Homo sapiens: one gene and its partner. The protein of the gene in region 1 purifies or fractionates together with the protein of each later gene. This does not show direct contact. Each region holds a gene or a part of one and is shown on either strand. Other genes may lie near its edges.

Region 1 (3,500 bases):
CACACACACACGTACACACCCCACTACCACCACCACCATCAGGCCCTCAACTAATCTCCCTCATGCACTCTTGGCTTTCTAAAGGCCAGGGTCTGGATGATACCACACCATAGCATTCTGCGATGAGAAGAAGGCATTGCCCACACCATGTCACCTAAGGCTCATTTCAGAAAAGGCAGTGAGGGGGAAAAGAGAAGTGCCATCTATTACCTGAGCTGCCGAAGGTTCCTCAAATGATAATGCTTTTCTTTAATTAATTCCCACAGCCGGCCTGGAGTAGCAACCACAATCTCAGGACGACGGTTCAGCATCCTCTGCTGTTTCTGCGTGGACATTCCACCAACCAAAATAGCAGTTTTAATTCCTATGGGACAGAAAACATAAGGGACACTTATTCAATCTGGGTGATCATTTTCTTACATGGCTGACACAGGCACCCCAGATTAGCAGAGACAGACATCAGCACAGTGTAATGCCCTAGAGCATTGCTAAAAGAGCAGGCCTGGCCAGACTGTTGACGCCACTCCTAGAGGGCTTACCAAGTCTTCTGTGATCTGAGCTCTACTTCTTCAGCCTCATTTCTTTTCTACTCCCTCCCCTCCAACCACACCAAAGGGGCTGAATTTGAACCCAGGTATGCTTACCTCCAAAGCTCTGGGAAAACGGAGCACTGGGGCACCATAATGCTGGGAGGAATATGACCTGCAGCTGTGCTACACCTCTCCTAGGAAGCCCTTCCATTCCCTCAGTTAGAATTATTCTGAAAGGTCCACTAATGCCCTGTTGTTTTCGTCTCTGGTGCAGAAATTCTCATAGTATCATGTGGGTAAAGGGCTTAGCAATAGTAACAACTTGGTAATTAATTGCTGCTTTCATTATAAAATTAAGATTCCCAGAGTGAAGCCCTTCCCAGAGTGAATTCCCTGAGAGAATTAAATCCTAATAGCTTAGAGCAGGGATCAGCCAACTTTTTCTGAAAGGGTCACTAGTGAACATTACTGACCTCATAGGCCAGATGGTCTCTGTCACAACTATTAACTCTACTCAACTTCACCTTTGTAGTACAAAACCAACCACAGACAATATAAAACCAAATGGGTGTGGGTGTGTTCCGGCAAAACTTTATTTATAAAACCAGACAGTTTGCTAATCCCTGCCCTGAGCATCTACTGTATCCAATAAATTTCCTATGCATCCACAATGGCACCAACCATGTATTATCCTTGAGGGAACTGAAAAAATGTCACTATATCAATTTTCTGTAGGGCTTAATTGTCTGGCTTATAGATGAGAGTGGCTTACCCTAGAGGGCAGGAGCCACAGCTCATTCATCTTTACCAACGAGCATTTGGGATTTACCTAGAAAATATTTATTAAATGGAACTAAACCTCACCTGTAAACCTGGCCACAGCATCAATGTGCTGTTTGACCTGGACGGCCAGCTCTCGAGTGGGAGTCAGAACCAGTCCAAGCAGAGGACGCTTTGGATATGCCTTACAGGTGGCGCTTTTGTCATCCAACTCCTGTTTTAGATTTCCAGTCTGCTCTTTATCAAGATTTTCCTCCTCATTCTCATTCTGTTTGGGAACAGGTTTCTCCCTGATCAGGGAAGAAGGCCCTTCACCAGCATCATCGTCACCAAAGAGCAACGCCTGGTCTGAGACAGTGCCTCCAGTCTTGGCTCTGGCCTCGGCTGCAATATCACTGGGCAGTGCTTCACTCTCAATTACAGTATCGTCAGGCAATGCATCAGACTCAGCTTCAGCCTTGCCTGGTGATCTAGTCTCAGCTCCGGCCTCAGTTCTGGTCTCTCCAGGTGGTGCTTCGGTGTTACTTGGAGGAGGGGCAGCATTCCTCTTCTGCCACTGCAACACCGCATGAATCATTGGGATGGCAAAGGCAAGAGTTTTCCCACTTCCTTAAAAGTAAAAAAACAAAACAAAGTAAAAACAGTGTGAATCAACAGATGAACATACTTTAGTCTGGAATTCATTCTTTTGCATAGAATAAGGTAGCCAAGTGCCACCCTGACCGACCCAAAGCTCCTCCACTCTACACAGATTTCCCCAGAAGGAACCAGAAGGCACATGTAAATTAGAACCCGAGGAAAAGTATGGCAGGCTAGCACTGAGGTCTTAGGTCACCAGTAACGAATTACAAATGTCCAAGAAATGAAACAATAAAGAGAGAAAGGGCAAGTTTTGGGTGTATGTGTTGTTTCTGTGAGGAGCAGGAAACAGTAATCCATACAATACTTTCCCAAGACTTTTCTTTGGTGAGAAAGGAGTAAAAGAAAATTTTCTTAAGTTTTCAGAAAATGTAAATATAAAACTTTTGTCTATGCCTGAACATTTTCAAACTGGCCTTTGAATGTACACAGAGTCCAAATCATCTGGGTGGTCAAAACAAAACATCTCAGGCTGAGAATTTAAAGAAGTTCCAAAGTGATAATGCCCTAGGCAGAAGCCAATAAATGCTTTCTCAAGGGAGAAACCATTACCATACATCTCCAAAAATTTTCACAATTTTCAAAGGAAATAAGCAGCTCTCAGTAAAAAATAACCACACACACAAAAATAAGATACTATAAGGAAAAAAGAGAGCAAAAACAGACACATGAAACTTTTGATAAGAAGAACAGCAGACTTATCAGAAACAATGAAAAGCCAGAAGACAGTGTAGCAATATTTTTTATTTGAATGCCTAAAAATAAAACCCTGACAATCTATAACCCTACACCCACTCAAAACAAAATGTGAAATAAAGACTTTAGGCATATAAAAGCTGAAATAATTCACCAGCAGCAAATGTAAGCTATCAGAAATATTAGTCTTTCATGCAATAGCAAAGATAACATAAAATGAAAATCTGGATGTACCCAAAGAAATAAAGAGCAACCGAAACAGTAACTACGTAGGTAAATATTTAAAAACTTCTTTTTATGGCCAGGCATGGTGGCTCATGCCTGTAATCCCAACACTTGGGGAGGTCTAGGCGGGAGGATCAAGACCAGCCTGGGCAACATAGTGAGACTCCCATCTTTAAAAAAATTTGCCAGGCATGGTGGCACACTCCTGTAGTCTTCGAAACTTGGGAGGCTGAGGCAGGAGGATTGCTTGAGCATGGGAGTTTGAGGCTGCAGTGAGCCATGATCGTGCCACTGCACTCCAGCATGGGTGACAGAGGGAGATACTGTCTCTAAAAACAAACAAAAAAACAAAACCCCTTATTTTTCTTATTTAAACATCTTTAAAAATAATTGTTTAAAGCAAATATAATAAAAATGTATTCTAGAATCTCTAACACATATGAAGTATACAACAAAAAGCACAAAGGAGGGGAGAAATGGAAAATACTCTTGTAAGGTTCTTACATTGTATGCGAAGTAGTAAATTACTTGAGGGTAAACTATAATAAAAGATATATACTATAAACCCCAAAGCAATCACTAAAAAGACGTTAAGAATTATAGCTAATAAGACAACAAAAAAGATAAAAT
Region 2 (2,708 bases), on another chromosome or scaffold:
ATGGTGACTCATCAGTGCTGTCCCTGTCAGAGGACGAGGCCCATGAAGGCTCCTGAGTTCTCCCTGGAGCCAGGGGTGTGCGAATGACAGAGGATTGGGATCCTGGTGCCCCCAAGGGGAGAGGCGCTTCCTCCAGGGTGGGCCTGTCGTGCCGTCCATCCTCACTCCGGGAGATGCTCAGGGATGGATGGAGAGCCCTTCCCGTTCTCCCGGTTCTGCTGCCACAGGAGCCTTCTCAGCCGTGCACGGCACCCTGGTCCCACTTTGCCAGCCTGAGGGCCTCTGGGTTCAATTCCCCCCACGGTGGGCGAGGTCCCCTTCCCCAGCCCAGCTCAGGCCTCCAGACTGGGATGGGGTGCCGTCGGCCCAGTGCTGCCTCGAGCACCCACATCTCGTCCTGGCACCCACAGGCAGAGACCCCAAGAACAACCTGGAAGCCTTGGAGGACTTTGAGAAAGCCGCAGGAGCCCGCGGACTCAGCACGGAGAGCATCCTCATCCCCAGGCAGAGCGGTAGGAGGCATGGCCCTGCAGAGCCCCCCATGTCCCCGCGTGGGGACATCAGCAGAGCTGCATTGCACGGGCGCATAACTGTGCTGCGTCTAATTCTGGCTTTGTCCTTCCTGGGGTGGTGGAGCTGGTGGCTGATGAGGGGCCCCGGTCCTGACTGCATTCCTGGGGTCTCCTAACGCCTGTGCTTCCTTTTCCTGCAGAAACCTGCTCTCCAGGGAGCGATTAGGGTGAGTGAACAGCTTTAGAGGACATTTGAGAAAATCCAGTTCTGGGGCTCAGTGGTGCTTCCAGAGGCCATGGGGTCTCTCCCACCCATCCCACTCCTACCTGGGTGGGAGATGCCCCACGTAGGTCAGGCAGGTGGGAGCTCTGCTCCTGAGCTGCCCACGCTCGGGCGTCAGACTCCGTTCTTGCCCTGGGTGTGACTCCTGGGCAGCTGGGAAGCCCACAGCGCTGAGCCCGCCTTTGCTGGCTGCTGGTGGAGACGGTGTCTACCCCCCAGTCACATGGGCAGGAGCAGGCAGGAGATTCGGGTTCCTCCTCAGCACCCCTCACCCTCGGCCATGCCTGTGACTCCACTTACCCGATAAGTTGCTCAAAGATTCAGCAAAGTGGCAGGCGTGCCTGTGCTCGCTGTGTCAGATGGGCCCCTTGCTGGCTGCACAAGGGGACCAGAGTTTGGAGACTCGCCCAAGGTCACCTGCCCAGGTGTGGGCAGAGCCAGAATCCTGGACAGCATCGCTGTCCTTCCCGCACCCTCCCCTTGGCCTGCAGTCACCCTGATGCCACTTCACTCAGCAGGGAGCTCTGTCAGCAGCCTGCGGGGGTGGTCCCTGCTCCATCCGCTCCAATCTAGAGGCTGGAGCCCCCACCTGCAGCCCCCAAGAGTCCGTGTGTGCCCCCCACACCATCGCCCCCAAGAGCTCGCATGTGCCCACCACACCATAGCCCCCTAGAGCCCGGTGCACGTCCCCCACACCATTGCCTCTGAGATCCAGCACGTGCCCCCGCAACCATCGCCCCCGAGAGCCCGCATGTGCCTTCCACCGTAACCCTCAAGAGCCCAGTGTGTACCCCCACCATAGCCCCCGAGAGCCCACATGTGCCCACACACCATAGCCCCCGAGAGCCCACATGTGCCCCCCACACCATGCCCCTGAGAGCCCACATGTGCCCCCCACACCATCACCCCTGAGAGCCTGCTGTGCCCCCCACACCATAGCCCCCGAGAGCCTGCATGTGCCCTCCACATCACAGCCCCCAAGAGTGCAGCGTGTGCCCCCCACACCATGCCCCTGAGAGCTCACATGGGCCCCCACACTGCAGCACCCAAGAGCCCACATGCGCCCCCACATTGCATCCCCCTCCCACCCTTGCTGTCCTGGCCTCACTCACCCTCCCCCCCTTTCCAGGGCAGGGGACACCTTGGCTCCTCAGCAGCCCAAGGACGGCACCATCCAGCACCTCCGTCATTCACAGGGACATGGAAAAAGCTCCCCACCCCTGCAGAACGCGGCTGGCTGCACCCCTTCCTACCACCCCCCGCCTTCCCCCTGCCCTGCGCCCCCTCTCCTGGTTCTCCATAAAGAGCTTCAGCAGTTCCCAGTGACTCCGCCTGTCTGTGGGGTCCCTCGGGGTGAGAGGTGCTGGCTGGGTGCTCTTTTGGGTGCAGGGACTGGGTGGGAAGCAGGAGGAAGGACAGGGAACCAGCCTGGACCCAGTTCTCCCTGGTGGGTGCCACAGGCCAACAGTGGGAGGGGCCTAGCAGGGGGGTGTGTGCTGGAGGCTGGGCCTGAAGGTCCCGGGGTGCTTCCTGCAGGTCAGCCGCCCGCTGAGCTCAGGCTGTAGGGGTTGCGGGGGTGGGGGCAGGGCTCCACTCCTCGGTCCTGCACAAGTAAGACCGGAAGGCCTGGGACCAAGCGCAGCTGCCACCCAGAGGGGACTGGGCAGAGCCACCAGTGCCCTCAGCACTGATGCTGAGTCCGTGAGGCTGGACGTGGGGGGAGGGGACAGCAGCTCAAGGCAGGGTGTGGCTCGGGCTTGAGCTCACCGGGGAAGCCAGTCCTGTCCTCCGGGGAGCCACACCAGCACTGCCCCCAGAGCCTGGCTCCACGCTGTCCCTCTCTGTGCCTGGGTAGGTTTGGGACAGCAAGTTCCCAGCTTGGGGGCAGCCACCAGAGGTCCCACCTGGCACAG

The links.
Region 2: the proteins of DDX24 (region 1) and LCN1 purify together in Homo sapiens (affinity purification with mass spectrometry, with the first as the bait; one large-scale study listed by BioGRID). This does not show direct contact.

What each region holds. Positions count from the first base shown.
Region 1 is NC_000014.9:94,060,703-94,064,202, forward strand, and holds part of DDX24 (ATP-dependent RNA helicase DDX24), read right to left. Parts: intron 1,920-3,500; coding exon 1,395-1,919; intron 365-1,394; coding exon 211-364; intron 1-210. UniProt on the Homo sapiens protein: ATP-dependent RNA helicase that plays a role in various aspects of RNA metabolism including pre-mRNA splicing and is thereby involved in different biological processes such as cell cycle regulation or innate immunity.
Region 2 is NC_000009.12:135,524,420-135,527,127, forward strand, and holds the end of LCN1 (lipocalin-1 isoform 1 precursor), read left to right. Parts: exon of another isoform or gene 1-83; coding exon of another isoform or gene 84-410; coding exon 411-512; coding exon of another isoform or gene 513-688; exon of another isoform or gene 689-712; coding exon 713-738; coding exon of another isoform or gene 739-739; intron 740-1,924; coding exon of another isoform or gene 1,925-2,098; 3' UTR 2,099-2,121; downstream 2,122-2,708. UniProt on the Homo sapiens protein: Could play a role in taste reception. Could be necessary for the concentration and delivery of sapid molecules in the gustatory system.